Regions from separate parts of the Homo sapiens genome. Here region 1 is linked to region 2. A link means that fine-mapping ties the variant in region 2 to the expression of a gene that starts in the linked region. Tissue or cell type: whole blood. Region 2 holds a variant in brackets; the other region holds the start of a gene. All regions are shown on one strand. Distances are from middle to middle.

Region 1 (8,108 bases), 47 kb before region 2:
TGCAAGCAAGCACCAGCTTGTGTGCATCTGGGTCCACACACTCTGCCTTCCCTCCAGTCACTAGCTTTTCCTACATCACTGCACTGTCCCCAACCCTGCCCCCCAGCTTTTCAGTGGATGTGTAAAGTAGACTCAGCTTCTAGGTCTTTACACTTGCTCTTCCTTTTGCTTGGGAGGTTGGGAACTCATCCCTCAGAGTGTGTACTGTGCTTCCTTCCCTTCCTTCAGGACCTCTTGCAGTGAGGTTTCCTCTGCCCCTTTAGAAATAGTCATCTCTCCCATTCTCAATCCCTCTTCCCCTGTTTTTTCCATCACTTGTACCACTACCTAGCATATTTGCGTATTTATTTATTTATTTATTTATTTTTTTTTTTGAGATGGAGTCTCGCTCTGTCGCCCAGGCTGGAGTGCAGCGGCACGATCTCGGCTCACTGCAACCTCTGCCTCCCGGGTTCAAGTGATTCTCCTGCCTCAGCCTCCCAAGTAGCGGGGACTACAGGCACATGCCACCATGCCCGGCTAATTTTTTTTTTTTTTTGTATTTTTAGTAGAGATGGAGTTTCACCATGCTGGCCAGACTGGTTTTGAACTCCTGACCTCGTGATCCATCCACCTCGGTCTCCCAAAGTGCTGGGATTACAGGTGTGAGCCACCACGTCTGGCCGTGTATTTATTTATTATCTGTCTTCCTTAATGAGGGCAGGGATTTTTTTCTGCTTGCCACCATATCCCCTGCTAGAACAGTGCTTCACTTACTCATTCATTCAACAGGTATTTAATATGCTCCTGTTAAATACCAGGCACTGCTCAGGTGCTGAGATTATAGCAATGAACACAGAAGACCAAAAATCCTGCTCTTTTGGCTAAATAATACGGAGACATTTGAGTGAAGACTTGAGGGAGATGAAGGAGTGAGCCATGTGGACATCTGTGGGAAGAGCTGTCCAGGGAGTGCTATGGTTTGAATGCATTCCCCAAAGTTTATATATTGTAAACTTAATCCCCAGCGCAACAGTGTTGAGAGGTGAGAACTTCAAGAGGTGATTATGTCATGAGGACTGTTAAATTAAGTTTAGGCTAAAGCTGCCTCCATATATATATATATACGTATATATACATATGTACATATGTATATACATATATATACACACACATATATATATATATATATATATTTTTTTTTTTTTTTTTTTGAGACGGAGTTTTGCTCTTGTTGCCCAGGCTGGAGTACAATGGCATGATATTGGCTCACCGCAACCTCCGCTTGCCGGGTTCAACTGATTCTCCTGCCTCAGTCTCCCGAGTAGCTGGGATTACAGGCGTGAGCTACCACGCCCGGCCCATACATATTTTAAGTTAGGCCTAAAGGTTTCTCTGTACACAGCAAACTGTAACCTAACTGGATATGCAAACAGACTGTAGCCAACTCTTGTACCAATCACAGAGTTTTGGTCAATCACAGGCAGCCAACTGTTCAAACTGTGTTAAAATAAAGCAAATATTTAGCTCTAACCAATCCAGTTTTTTCTGTACCTCACTCCATTTTCTGTCACTTTTCTTTCTCTGCCCATAAACATCATCTGACCCTGTGGCAGCCCCAGAGTTGCTCTGAAACTATTCTGGTTCTGGGGGCTGCTCAGTTCTCAAATTGCTCTTTGCTCAATTAAACTCTGTTAAATTTAATTTGCCTAAAGTTTTTCTTTTAACAGGGATCTGTCCTCATGAATGGATTAATGGCATTATGGGAGTGCGGTTTGGTATCTCAGGAGGGGATTGCTGATATAAGCATGAGTTTGGCCCTTTTCTACCCTTCCTCTCATGTTCTCTCTCTTGCTATGTGATGCCTTCTGCTATGTTGTGATGAAGGAAGAAGGCCCTCACCAGATGCAGCCCCTTGATTTTGGATTTCTCAGCCCCCAGAACCATGAGCTAAATTAACTTTTATTGTGTATAAACTGCCCAGCTGGTGGTTGTATTGGTCCATTTTCATACTGCTATGAAGAAATACCCAAGACTGGGTAATTTATAAAGAAAACGTGGTTTAGGGCTGGGTACGGTGGCTCACGCCTGTAATCCCAGCACTTTGAGAGGCCAAGGCAGGTGGATCACCTGAGCTCAGGAGTTTGAGACCAGCCTGGCTAACACCACAAAACCCCGTCTCTACTAAAAAATACAAAAAAAGATTAGCCAGGCGTGGTGGTGCATGCCTGTAGTCCTAGCTACTTGGGAGGCCAAGGCAGGAGAATTGCTTGAACCCTGGAGGCAGAGGTTGCAGTGAGCTGAGGTTGCATCACTGCATTCCAGCCTGGGTGACAGAGTGAGATTCTGTCTCAAAAAAAAAAGGTTTAATGGACTCACAGTTTTACACGGCTGGGGAAGCCTCACAATCATGGCAGAAGGTGAAGGAGGAGCAAAGGCACATCTTACGTGGCAGCAGGCAAGAGGGCGTGTGCAGGGAAACTGCCCTTTATAAAACCGTCAGATTCTCATGAGACTTATTCACAATCACGAGAACAGCATGGGAAGAACCCACCCCCATGATTCGATTACCTCCCACCAGGTCCCTTCTATGACACATGGAGGTTATGGGAGCTACAATTCAAGATGAGATTTGGGTGGGGATACATAGCCAAACTCTATCAGTGGTATTCTATTACAGCAACACAAAATGAACTCAGAAAGGGAGGGAACAGCTAGCACATAGATACTGAGGTGAGAATGTGCCCAGATTGTTCCAGAAGAGTGAGGATGCCAGTGTGACTTGGGGAAGTGAGCAAGAGGAAGAGTAGAAGTGCAGGTCAGAGTGCTAAAGGAGGGGAAGGAAAGATTATGTAGAGTCTTGTGCTTATTATGGGAACTTTTATTCTGAGTGAAATGAGGACCCAAGGGAGGATTTTTTAAAAATTTAATAAAATGATATTAATATACAGTCCATATTTAGGTTTTTATAATGGTCTCATCAATGTCCTTTTAAAAAGAATATCCAAATTTTTATTATCATTTAAGGAAATAATTTGCACAATGGGCAAAATCAAATTTTATTGCATACATAATAATATTAATAGTTATCATTTAAGACTACTAGGACTGCACTAAGAAAGGCCATCTAGGCTGGGCGCGGTGGGTCATGCCTGTAATCCCAGAACTTTGAGAGGCTGAGACGGGTGGATCACTTGAGGCCAGGAGTTTGAGACCAGCCTGGCCAAAATGGTGAAACCCCGTCTCTACTTAGATGGGCGTGGTGGTGTGTATCTGTAGTCCCAGCTACTCGAGAGGTTGAGGCAAGAGAATTGCTTGAACCCGGGAGGCAGAGGTTGCAGTAAGCCGAGATCGTGCCATTGCACTCCAGCCTGGGCGACCGAGCGAGACTCCGTCTCAAAATTAAATAAATGCCATTTTTGATTTTTTTAAAAATTAACGACTTTAAAATGACAGTTTATAGCTCCTCCTCCCCATTCAGGATCCAATCAAGGTCATATACTGCATTTCATTGTCATGCTTTTTTTTTAATAGCTTGAGGTAAAATTCACATACCAAATGATTGACCCATTTAAAGTGTGCAATTTAATGGCTTTTGGTATATGCACAGAGTTGTGCAACCATCACCAGAAACTAGTTTTAGAACAATTTTGTCACCCCATAACCTTTAGCTGTCACTCCCCAGGTTCCTCATTTCCCCAACCCTATGCAAACCACCAATCTACTTTCTGTCTCCATAGCCTTGCCTACTCTGAGCATTTCACATATGTGGAAGAATACAATGTGTGGTCTGTCTTCTTTCCCTTCACGTTTTGAAAGGTTATCCATGTAGCATGCATCAGTATCAGTACTTCATTCCTTTTTATGGCTGAATAATGTTCTCTTGTATGGGATACTTTATACTATTTATCAAGGGAGGGTTTTCAACAGAGGAGTGGCCTGATCCGAGTGGCATTTAACAAGGTTCACTTTCCTGTTGTTCTAAGGAGCAGAGAATGATCAACTGCGTCAAACGCTGCTTTTAGGGAAAATAAGATGAGGCCCACGAATTGACCAGTAAGTGCTCAAATAGGTTAAGGGAAAAAGGAATTTAATTAGAAGACATATTCTGATATACATTGCTGGGAGTGATTTTTTTTTTTTTTTTTTTGCTTCATGTGAAATTTATTCCTCAAAAAAAAATCATTTTTTCTAAACGTAACTCAACATTATAGTAATTATGCAAGATTTTATGCAGCTTCAAGAGTTAGCCAAGAGAAAAGTTGACTCTTGCAAGAAGATATTTTCAATGTCTATGCAGATCAGGTAGGTAAGAGTTAAGTGCGGGGGAGTTGGCATCATCTAAAAGACTGTAGAAATTGGACCAAAAATGTGGAGTTCTAAAGCAGTATCTCCTTATGGCATGCCATTATTTGGAGCAACAAGGTTACCTACTCGAATCACTGGATCCTGAGTTGACACAAAACGCATCTGTTGACTCAGGGTTTGTATAACCACGTGCAGTATTTACTAGGCTATCCAATTCTGGGTACGTACAACTTCTGGGGCCTGCAAATTATTGGAGAGTGAGTGAGGGGCAACGAAAGATAGACATAAAAGGGCGCGTCTCGAAAGGTAACTGTCAACATGCACTCCACGTTTATAGAACGATTCAGTGGGCGCGGTGGAAGCGTTAATGAACATTTCAGAAAATAAACATATGGAACATCGAAATTCACTTGCAGATAATGGACTAAGTCCGCTCCACCGGGACTAAAAAGGCAGGGTTAGGAAAGCCTGAACGCCGCCACACTGTTTTTTCTCCAGGAAGAAACGGGGCGTGGGGCTGCCGGTAGAAGGGGGTGGCTCCGGCCGCTCCCCCGCGCCGTCCTCCGGCCCCGGCCGCGCTGCGCTCACGCCGGCCGGGCCGGGAATTTGGAGAGGATCCCTGGTCGCGCGGCAGCGGCGGCGGCGCGCGGGTGAGCGGGTGAGCGTGTGAGCGGGCGGGCGGGCAGGCGAGTGCGCCGGGTATTGGCAGCTGAGGAGTGGAGGCTGGGCAGCTCCGACTCCCTGACGCCAGCGCGACCAGATCAATCCAGGCTCCAGGAGAAAGCAGGCGGGCGGGCGGAGAAAGGAGAGGCCGAGCGGCTCAACCCGGGCCGAGGCTCGGGGAGCGGAGAGTGGCGCAGCGCCCGGCCGTCCGGACCCGGGCCGCGAGACCCCGCTCGCCCGGCCACTCGTGCTCCCACACGGACGGGCGCGCCGCCAACCCGGTAAAACGAAACAGACCCGAACCGAACTTTCCCTTCATGCCGCGTCCCAGCCCTCCCCTCGGCGCCCCGGGCTTTCCAGCGCCGCCGCCGCCGTCTCTGCACGCGTGGGGCCGCCGCGGTCGTGCTGGGCTGGGGGCGCGGGCAGCGGCGGGAAGGGGGCTCTTTCTGCGCGGGGCGGGCCGCGACCCCCCCCCCCCATGATGGCGCCTCCCGTCTGCTCGGAGGAGCGAACCTGCTACCACGTCTTCTCGCGCCCAGCCCGCCGGGCTCCCCTGGTGTCTTTGTTGGGTCTTCTGCTGTGGGAAGCCCAGTTCCCGGGCCCCCGAGCCTCGGCTCCCGGGCCTGACCGCGCTGGGATCTCCCCGGCCGCGCTCCCCTTCCGCGCGCTCCTCACATCTCTCCCGTGCTGCCGCCGGGCCGAGGCCCGTTCGCGTGGCCCGCGGACCCATTGTGTCCCCCGCGCCGGCGGGGCGACCCCTGCGGGAGCTGGAGGACGACCGCTGGCGCTGCTCTCCAAGGCGCCTGGTGGAGCGGGTCTCGCGGGCGGGGGACCCCGGCGCCCCGGGCCCCTCCACATCCCGCACGGGTTTTCTTCTCGGCCCCAGCAAGCCTCTTTGGGGTCGAGGTCAAGGAAAGTTCGCACCGAGATCCCCTCTAATTTATTCAAAGGTTTGGCGGCGGCGCGTAATTTTTTCCCCCTCTTCCGCCTACACCCGCTGCGTCTCCTGGTGTCTCGTTCCTTTCCCTTTACCGGAGTCGATTGCCTCACTGCATGTGTATTCGTGAGTTCGCGGTTGAACAACTGTTCCTTTACTCTGCTCCCTGTCTTTGTTAGTGTTTCTCGGGGTTGTTTCTGTAGGAAGGTGGGGGTGGTGGGCGTGAGAGACAGATGTGGGCTTGTTTTTCTAGTTGCTGAAACTGTATGAAGGCTTTAAAGGGAGAACGTTTTCTTGATGTGCTTTAGGAGGGGAGGAGGAACAAATGCCTGCCAGATCTCACAGCTACAGTAGCTGAGCTTTTGTTTATTTTGAAGAGCATGCAATTTTTAAATACACGGTGCAAGATAACCAGTAAAGGCGCGTTCCTTCTGAAAATTGAGGCCGGTCTCAGAACCATCTCCTGAGAAAGCATCCTTTTCGTGAGTGCTGAGACAACTGTCCTTTTTCTCTGCCCTCCCCCCTCTTTTCTTTCCATTGTATCTGAAGTTTCAAAGTACGTGGAATGATACAGAAGTTGCATGATTTCTGTTATTTCTTCCTGTTGCTGAAACTCTCAGCCGCTAAATCTCAGAATGCCTCTATTTCAGAACATCTCTGGGTCTAATTGCCTGTTGTGGATAACTTGCCCACACCTCAGTAACACAATGAGAAAACTGTTCCCTGCCCATGTTGATTTTTCAAATTGTTTGTAATTACTTTAAATTGTATTGAAGGTAGGTGGACCGTGTTAAAAAAGAATCGGAACAGAAGTGTTCACTGCCCCAGCATTTTCAATTGGTATAAATATTGTTGCATCAGTGTTATTCTGATGTAGGTGCCAGATCTAAATATGCTGTACTGATTAAAGTGTTTGTTCTGCCCTCTCCCACTCTCTTTCCCATTTGCAATTATTTGCTATTTCTGTGCAGGTGGTGTATCATTGGTGTAATACTGCAGTTCTTAGGAAGGTGTAGCTAGGGTCGTGAGAGATGATTTTTCTGGAGGTGGGTGATGCCAGAGCCTCTAGAGGATCCAGGCAGGATCGAGTTTCTTCTGAGGGTAGGGATTTGTCCTTGATTTAGTTTTGACCCCTACAACCATAGGTATGTAACCAAATACATTTTACCTCTTGCAGTATCCTTTGGTTTCGTATCCTTGAAGAGCTGATGACCTTTGTGTTTTAGAGAAATGACAATTTTTAGGCAATTAAAGACATTGGCCTCTTACACTTCTTGGAATTTTATGTTATTTTTACTAAGTTCATTAAGGCATTAAGAGGAAGTTGTCACATTTTCTCAACTACGTTTATTACATTTATTAGTTAAAAACTAAATTTCACTTTGTAATTTTGATTTCTAGCAATTCTGGGTTAAATATTAAATCTAATAACCTAGTAGATTGGAAAAAGAAGTAGCTTGGGTATAGTAATTAGACTAGCATGTTTAAGCTGCAGTAGCCTACATAATCAAGGCCAAGTGTGTGTGTATAAAAGATCTCATTTGTGTAGTCTTACAAGGCTAATGGAGGCATCACTGAGGCTTTATAAATAATGTAAGTTGGGTATAATGTAGAGTCTCCAGAGACGGCAGAGAAAGCATCATTACCAGCCTTTTCAACCTGCTTGAGATCTTAAATTGATTTACAGCACTGAACTGGTGCAAAATGATACATCAGGATGACATGGGGTCAGCCTGTAAAAGTCTATGATGTCAGCCTATTAGTTCAGTCATCATAATTAAACCATATTACAGGGGTAGCTAAGCAGGAGTCTGGCGTTATACTTCAGATATGGGTGGTACATGGGTTTTGTTTATAGTGGAAAGGCTGAGATGGCCAGGGATACCAGTGTGTGTGAAAGAGGGAAAAGGCTTACAGAACTATGAATTTCTGTAGAAAAATTTAAGATAAATGCAGAGATATTCAATCTGAATTGTATAAGTAGCTTTTCATTTGGTAGAGGAGAAACAGATGCTTTAGGGATGCTGATAAGGACCTTTGCAGCTCTGATATGTGTACTGAATGCTTCATGTGAGTTTGAATTTAACTTGGCCTTAGGGACCTTATAAAATATCAGTGGACCACATACTTAACTTTGATCCTTTTATTACCCCTGAATTTTCACTGTATTGATATCTACTGACATGTTATTTCTTTAACTAGTCAAACTTACCAGGCCTAT
Region 2 (8,108 bases):
ATCCACACAGCCTAGTGGACATGGAGATAAGACAGTGAACGCTTTCCAGGATTTTATCATTGGCATTGGCTTATGGTTGATAATTTTATTATTTTCATCTATAATATTACTAGAAACATGAAATAATATAGTCATGAGTAGGATTTTATACCCAGATCTTTTAGTGGATTCCAGTGTTAAATCCTAGGCAAATGTGAAGCTTGTTATTTTAATTTTTTTTTTCTTTTCTGAGCAACTGTTCTTAAATGCATTTGTGGCATTTGTTTTGGGTTATTAATTGATGAATAGATACTGTTTCAGCCATTACTGTATGTTACTTTTACATAAACTGTAAAAGTACATAAGTTGTTATACATCGATGGAAGCAGACATCTAGACAACTACAATGTGATTTGTTTCTGGGCAGAATTTTTCTATTGCCAAATCTACTTTAATTTGAAATTTTAAGACAGTAGTCTATAGATCATACAAAGTACCTTTCTCATACTTTTGCTTTCCTGACGTTTGTCTTCTGCTTTATTATTTTTCTTCTTATTCTATTTCTGCAGTATTAGGTGGGCAAGAGAAGATATTTTCAGATCTTTCAGATTCATTTAAAGTGCAGCTGTCTTCCACCCTCCATTGCTGGTTCATAGAGCAGAAAGAACACCAGCCAGCCAGCAGCTGTTAAAAAGAAAACGAAAAAAAAAAAAAGTGACTGAAGAAAAACAGCAGTTTTGAAAACCATAGAAAAACATTTGTCATAATATTTTAAATTAAAAGAAAAAAACCAGGCCAATGTTTCCAAGACTAGCTTAGGGTGAAATAATAATTAAGACCTTCTGAATTGTGCTTTTTGGCTTATTATTCCCACATGTGGATCATCCTGAAACAATGATTTCTTGGAGGTTTGAGTAAGTTTTATATGTGGTTGAGTTTAGGAGGAGTCACAGGTGATTTGCCCCATGTGGGAGTGCCCGGTGGCCTTGCTGGATACTTGGAAAAAGGAGAGAAATAGAAGAGGATGGTCGGCTTATGTAATGATCTCAGGCTGATTAATTTGGTTTTACTTTCAGCCTCTTTGGTGCTAGATATCAAAAGGCCAGAGAACAGACCAGAGATTGCTTTCTCTCAAATATATGTTCTATCCCCTTGCCATTTTCCCCTTAAAATGAAAATGTTCTCCGGAAAGACTAAGCATCATGACTAATAAGCATGAATTAGCCAGATCATCAAACCTCTGCCCTGATATTTGGAAAAATGAGATTTGTTTGGGGAGGAGATGGGGAAGCAACAAGGGTTTATTTGTTTTTGAAGAAGCAGAGCTGGAGGATTTGGAGCAGCTGTAGGGTGGATACCATGAGCACTGTGGTAAAAATCTAAGAGGGCTTGCAGAATAGTAGAGCTAAAACCCCCACATTTTGTTAATTTGCCAGTTTGGCTGGGGATTGGTGTAGTTGTTTGATACTGGTGCTGAATCTAGTTTGAATGTCTGCATGCAGACTCGTTTCCTCTGGGTTTGGGCTGGGGTGGGTTGGGCTGAGCTGGGCTGAGCTGGGCCAGGCCTCCTGGTGTATGGGAGATGGAGAGATAATCACTTGCTGCTTACCCACTCCACTTTTCTAATTATCATTGCCCTCAGTCCTCAACAGGATTTCTCTAGCACTGAAGCCTGACCATAATACTCAATTGCAGGTCTGCTCCACATAAAACTATGTAACTAGAGGTAAGTGTAATTTCCTTGATAAAAGATCTAGGGTGTTGGAAACACATTCTGTGGCTTAAATCAAGATTTAGGTCAACAAAGGAGTGTTTGGCAATTTTCCTCCAGTTCTCTAAATTGTAATGTTCATGCTCTGGAATCTTAGCAGGTTTTAAAAATGGAAGATCAGGTTTATATTCTGCTATATCACTACCCTGGTTCTAAAACAGCTCTCCAAGAGATGCTGCTTTTCTTAGTTCTTTATTCTTTCGCATGAGAAAAGACATTTTTTTATCTAAATTGTGGCCTGGCGTGGTCTGGCTTATGTGGTCGCACATCACCTTCACTTGACTAATTGCCCAGTGGCCTGTCTGGGATGTTCAGTGAGAATAAAGTAAAAGAAGAGTGATTTTATAAGGAGCATTTGGACAGCTTATTGTAAACTAAAAATAAACATATAAATAACAGAGTGAAATTGCCTTATATGTTTTTGCCTTTGTTTCCCTGTAGTTTCCCTATCAGTTCTAGCTAGCTAGCTTTGTAGCAGATTTTGCAGTATTTTTTGTGTGTGACAATACCTTTCTTTGAGCACCTGAAAAGTTTACCCAGGGTATGGTGGTGTGCTTGACAGATATTTAAGTAAGATGATCAACTTGGGAGAAAAGTTGTGGATAAATGTCTATTCACATATAACTTACAGCTTTTAAATAGGAAAAATAATAGCTAATCTTAAAATGTTATTTAAGAGAAAACTGATGGGAGCATGTCACAAGGACCCAGAGGCCAGCTTGTGACAAATCTGAGACAATTTGATCAACGGAATAATTAAGGACAGAAGTGAATTATAAACCACTGGGAGAAAAACAGGAATCCATGCTGAAGATGAATGGGGGAGAAGGAAAAGGCTCTTGCTCACAGTAGAATGCCATTGCCAACCAGTAAATGTGGAGTTCTTTAGGATATTCTGGACAATAAGGCCATTTAAAGGAGATATTTATTTCTCTTTAGTAGTTAAAATATGATGGGAAGAATCTAGGGTTAGAAGGGCTGGATTGAATTTTGGCACTTGATAACTTTGACCTTGGGTTAGTCATTTGTCCTCTTTGAGCTTGTGTTTGCTAACCCATAAAATGGGGGAGTGGTTACATCTACTTTTCAGGTTGAGGATAAAGTTAATGCATGTGAAAAGGCTTTATGTACTAATGCATTCTTGAAACAATATGACTGAAATAGTGATACAAGGAACATCACTTCTGTGTATCTTTCTTAGAATAGAAACAAAATTTGTAATGTAAGCAACTTTTCATTAAACAGATATTCAGAAAAGGAATGATATTATTAGAATAAAATATTAATAAAGTTAAAATAGTGACTTTTTATGCTTTCTGTGTGCTGGACACTGTGCTTATCACTTACCATCTATTCTCATTTAATTCTTTTTTTTTTTTTTGAGACGGAGTCTTGCTCTGTCGCCCAGGCTGGAGTGCAGTGGCGGGATCTCGGCTCACTGCGAGCTCCGCCTCCCGGGTTCACGCCATTCTCCTGCCTCAGCCTCCCAAGTAGCTGGGACTACAGGCGCCCGCCACTACGCCCAGCCAATTTTTTGTATTTTTAGTAGAGACGGGGTTTCACCGTTTTAGCCGGGATGGTCTCGATCTCCTGACCTCGTGATCCGCCCGCCTCGGCCTCCCAAAGTGCTGGGATTACAGGCGTGAGCCACCGCGCCCGGCCCTATTCTCATTTAATTCTAACAACGACTGCCGGAAGATGGTACCAATGTGGCTACTGATATGTAGAATTTGAGTAAATTTTTCACACAACTTGTATCTGGAAAGCCAGGATTCAAATTAAAGCCTAACTGCAAAATCCATGCTGCTAACCACTGTGCTATACTGCTTCCCAAAAGAAGTCTTTAATCAGTTTTCTCTCAACAAAAAGGAGGGGCATCCAGAGTTTTTGGTAGTAGAGAATGTGATCATATGTGCACCAGCTGCATGAGTTTTGGATTGCGAGTCCACATCTGCCCTTGAAGTGTTTATGGAGGCTTCTGTTTATTTCCCATTGATCAGTAATTTTTTTTTTTTTTCGAGACAGAATCCCACCCTGTCACCCTGGCTGTAGTGCAGTGGCGCAACCTTGGCTCACTGCAACTTCCACCGCTCCCCGCCCCGGCCCCGGCCCTGGGTTCAAGTTATTCTCCTGCCTCAGCCTCCCGAGTGTCTGGGACTACAGGCATGCACTACCACTCTCGGCTAATTTTTTTGTTTGTACACACACACACACACACACACACACACACACATACACACACATATATTTTTTTTTTTTTTGAAATTGAGTCTCACTCTGTCACCAGGGCTGGAGTGCAGTGGCACGATCTTGGCCCACTGCAACCTCCACCTCCTGGGTTTAAGTGATTCTCCTGCCTCAGCCTCTTGAGTAGCTGGGATTACAGGCGCCCGCCACTACACCCAGCTAAATTTTTGTATTTTTAATAGAGTCAGGGATTCACTATGTTGGCCAGGCTGGTCTCGAACTCCTAATCTTGTGATTTGCCCTCCTCAGCCTCCCAAAGTGCTGGGATTACAGGCGTAAGCCACTGCACCCGGCCTAACTTTTGTATTTTTTAGTAGAGA[C/CG]GGGGGGTTTCACTATGTTGCCCAGGCTGGTCTCGAACTCCTGACCTCAAGTGATTCACCCACCTTGGCCTCCCGGAGTGCCAGGATTACAGGCGTGAGCTACCGCGCCTGACCATAATGTTCTTTATTAGATACCAAGTATCTCATTTTCGTGGAATATATTTAATTGCATCAAATATAAACTCAGAATGAGCTGAATATAATTAATTCAGCTGCAGTTACAAATTAAAGATGCCTGGGTGACACCTAGGTTAATCATTTACATATCAATCGTGCAATAGATGAATAGACACCATAGGCTAACTGCTCTTTGTGTAATGACTACCTCTTACTGTGTGCTTATGGAACTTTGTTAAAACTAACTTGTGCAACGTTGAGAGACACCATAGCACGGTGGCTAAGAACTTGGACTGCAGTGCCAGGCTGCCTAGGTTTGAATCCTGTCTTCCCTGGTTATTGGTGATACATTCTCTATCTCATTCTCTATATCTCATTTTCCACTTTTATAAAGTAGAGGTAATGTAGTACCTAGGATCAGAGTTGTTCAGAGGATTCAATGAGTTAATATCTGGTACAGCTTGGTATGTGGCACTTGGTACACACATGTATAAGCACCATATTAAAAGAAAATCTGAGAAGTACTATTATTCCTATTTTATTATTAAAAGTGAGGTTTAAATAGTAAATTGCCCTAGTTAATCGGCTAGTAAATAAGCAGAATTTCCAATTTTGGAACTGAGAAACTAAAACCTGCTTCTGACTGTTACTATACTTCATGTGTGGCTTTTGAAGGTATTTTTTTTTCTCCTGATGTTTTTAGGTTATACCCTGAAGTTTTTTTCTACCTCTAACAACTCTCGAAGTCTCTAATAACAGAGCACCTTCCTTCTGTGGAAGTAAAGCAGATAAATACTTGGCAAAAGAAAGGAAACTACCAGGGTGAAAGTAGGAAGAGAAAAGACAGAGAGGGAACTAGGTTTGACAAACTGCTGTGTGCCACCATTCTTGATTCTCAGAGTGCTGTTAAGGGCTTGCTATCCCTTTGGGGAAACTGAGGTGGGAATTTATGCCACCTAAATTCATACAGCTAAGACCGTGGGCTATCTTGATCCCAAGCCAGTGCTTTTTCCATGACAACATGCCTCTTGACCAAAAAAACTGGGCCCTGTAAATTTTCTGTAAGCTTACTATAAGGCCATGCCAGCCTTTTCCATGTCATTTGGATTTATATCTGTATACTGTCAAAGAATCAGGACCAATACTGTGTAGAGTTTTTTGTAAGTGAAAGGGATGATCTCTAGAAATTTGACTTAAGATGAGAAAAATTGAAGTTCAAGTTCCACAGCTACTTAGAGACATAGATAGGGCCAGACACCTAGCTCTCTTGCCAGTGCATGTAGTAACCATTTGTCTTCCTGTACCTAGGCTGTATTCACCCAGAATTGCTGAAGGTTTTGACTTGTTATATCTGGGATGAGGTATAAGAATCTGCCTTTTTAAATAAGTATCTAATTCAGGTGCAAAGAGTCTGAGGGCTGAACTTTGAGAAAGACTGGTTTATATGAACCCACTTATAGTAGACAGGTCAGGAATAGCAATACAATTTACAAACATATTGAAAAAACATTCATTCTGGACCTATTAGGTGCCAGACACTGGCACCTATTTCCTTTCAAAAGAAAGAAAATCAGTTCTACCCACAAAGGCATTACAGTCCAGGTGAAGTAAAGTCAACTTAGCAATAAAATGTTGCAGATGCTACAATGAAAGTCTGTGTAGGGCACACTGAGGCATAGGGAGGAATTCTTTTCTACCAGGGGTGGATAGAAAGACCGGGAAAGGCACCATGGGAGTGCTGTTAGAACTGAGACTTGGAAATATGGCCAAGTGAGCAAAGGTGCAGAAGTATGAAACTAGCAGATGAAAACTGCAAAAAGCCACAAAGATAGGTTGAAGCAGGAATCTGAACTAGGTTATGGAGTCATAGCAGACGTTCTGTGGGTGCCCAGAGAAGGTATTTTTCAAGAAAATAATCTGTGGTATACAAAAAGAATCATTGGCCTGGCATTATCTAGGAAGTTGGATTCTCAGAAGTTGAGTTAGATTTAGGTGATTTTTAGGTAAATTTAGTGGCTTTTGTTTAATGCTTTATGATATTGTTGAATGAAATTCATTTATCTATGTCAAATTATGTTCACATCTTTGTCTTTTAATATATTTGTACTTGAGTAACTATACTCCCAGAAAGTAAATACTACCGTGTTGCTACCTTTAGGCAAAACTATCATACCTTTTAAAAAGATCTTGCCCCCAAAAAAACAAACAGAAGGATGGAAAAAGAATTTAAAAAACAACTTCCACAGTCTCTTTCCAGTTTTATAGTACTGAGTGATTGTCTAGTGGTTATGAGCAGACCTTGATTCACATCCTGGCCCTCAATTAGCAGCTGTGTGACCTTGCATGGGTTACTTAGCTAGGCTGAGCCTGATCCTTCACCTGTAAAACAGAGATAACTGCTGTGAGGATTTAGTGATAGACACTTTTCCCAATGGGCAAGGACAGTGTCTGTCCTGTTGACTCATACCTGCAGTGCCCTGCATGATGGAGGCATATATGGTACCCAGTGAACCTTATATTATAGACCCTCCGTACTATCACCTCATCACCAATAAGCAGACAAAAAAGTGCCACCACTCAGGGGTTTAGGCTGTTATATATTTTCATTAAAATTTAACCTCTATTGAGGTTCCAAGAATCATTTCTTCAGCGTAAAGTTTCCCTGACATATGCTGAGGTAAGGAATTTTATTTCATAAATGTGTATACTATTAATTTTAAGTGTTCTTACTCTTACCCTTTCCGGCACTTCCTACTTGAAGTGTCTCTGTTTAGAAGGTCACTGAACACACTCTACTGGGGACATCTGTCTCGTGTAGGCATCATATTGGGCACAGCTGCTCTGGCAGCTTGCCCTCCCTTTCTCACAAGAATTGCTGCAGCTGACTGGCTCTGGGGCCATTCTGTCCCTAGCCCTGGGCCTCCTTTCTGCTTGTAGGTGGCCTCACTGAAATGTCCTGAGATTCAACTTAGATGCCATCTGGGGCTGAGCTTTGGACATTACAAAACTCCAGGTGTACATGAGCAGCATTCTCATCCATCAGAAGACTTGCAGAATTTAGAGCAGGAAGACCCTGTGGAGAGCAAGTTTCTTGCTCTTTTGTGTGAGGAAACTGAGTCCCTGAGACATTAAGTGATTGGCTCAAAGTCACAAAGGTGGTTACGGGAGTCAGGACTAGAACTAAGGTGTCTTGACTCTAACCTAAATGCCTTTACCACCTTCTCAGAACTAGAAAGCATTTCTGTACTGCCAGGTAACAGGTAGCTTGTGTCCGTTACTTCTTTTTTTTTTTTCTGTTACTTCTATATGGGCAAACATATATCAGAACTCTCTTGCGTGTTTAAAAAAGAAAAAAGCTGCTTTCTCACGAACATTTGGTGGGTCACAGCCCACGTGGGGATTTGTCAGACTTTGTCTCATTACTAGACTACTTTACCACTGACAACTTGGTGATAGAATTTCAAGCAGTACTTCAAAATCTTAAAAAAGCTCTCACATCTAGAGTTTACAGGAATCCTTTCCAGAGCTCAGCCCCTCTCTACAATTTTAACTGTTCTTTTTCATGCTTTTCCGTGTACCTTAGCAACGCTGAAAAGCTGAGTATAATAGCAGAATCACAAATATCTCTGAAACTTTTGCTTCCTGAAACATTCTTAGTTGGGTTTCCCTGTTGA

What was found. PIP is the estimated chance that this variant, and not a neighbour inherited with it, causes the effect.
Region 1: it holds the start of SMAD1, and the variant in region 2 is fine-mapped to the expression of SMAD1 in whole blood (INTERVAL, PIP above 0.99).

Annotation. Positions count from the first base shown.
Region 1 is chr4:145,476,808-145,484,915 of GRCh38, forward strand. SMAD1 (SMAD family member 1) reads left to right here and starts at 5,046. Exons shown (of 7, transcript NM_005900.3): 1 at 5,046-5,231. RefSeq lists silencers at 4,815-4,944, 5,115-5,274, 5,615-5,674, 5,765-5,864.
Region 2 is chr4:145,524,111-145,532,218 of GRCh38, forward strand. All of the region lies in intron 2 of SMAD1 (SMAD family member 1), which reads left to right. Among named protein-coding and RNA genes, the nearest start is that of SMAD1-AS1, 11 kb to the left of the region's middle. The variant C/CG (reference allele first, on the strand shown) is at 4,318.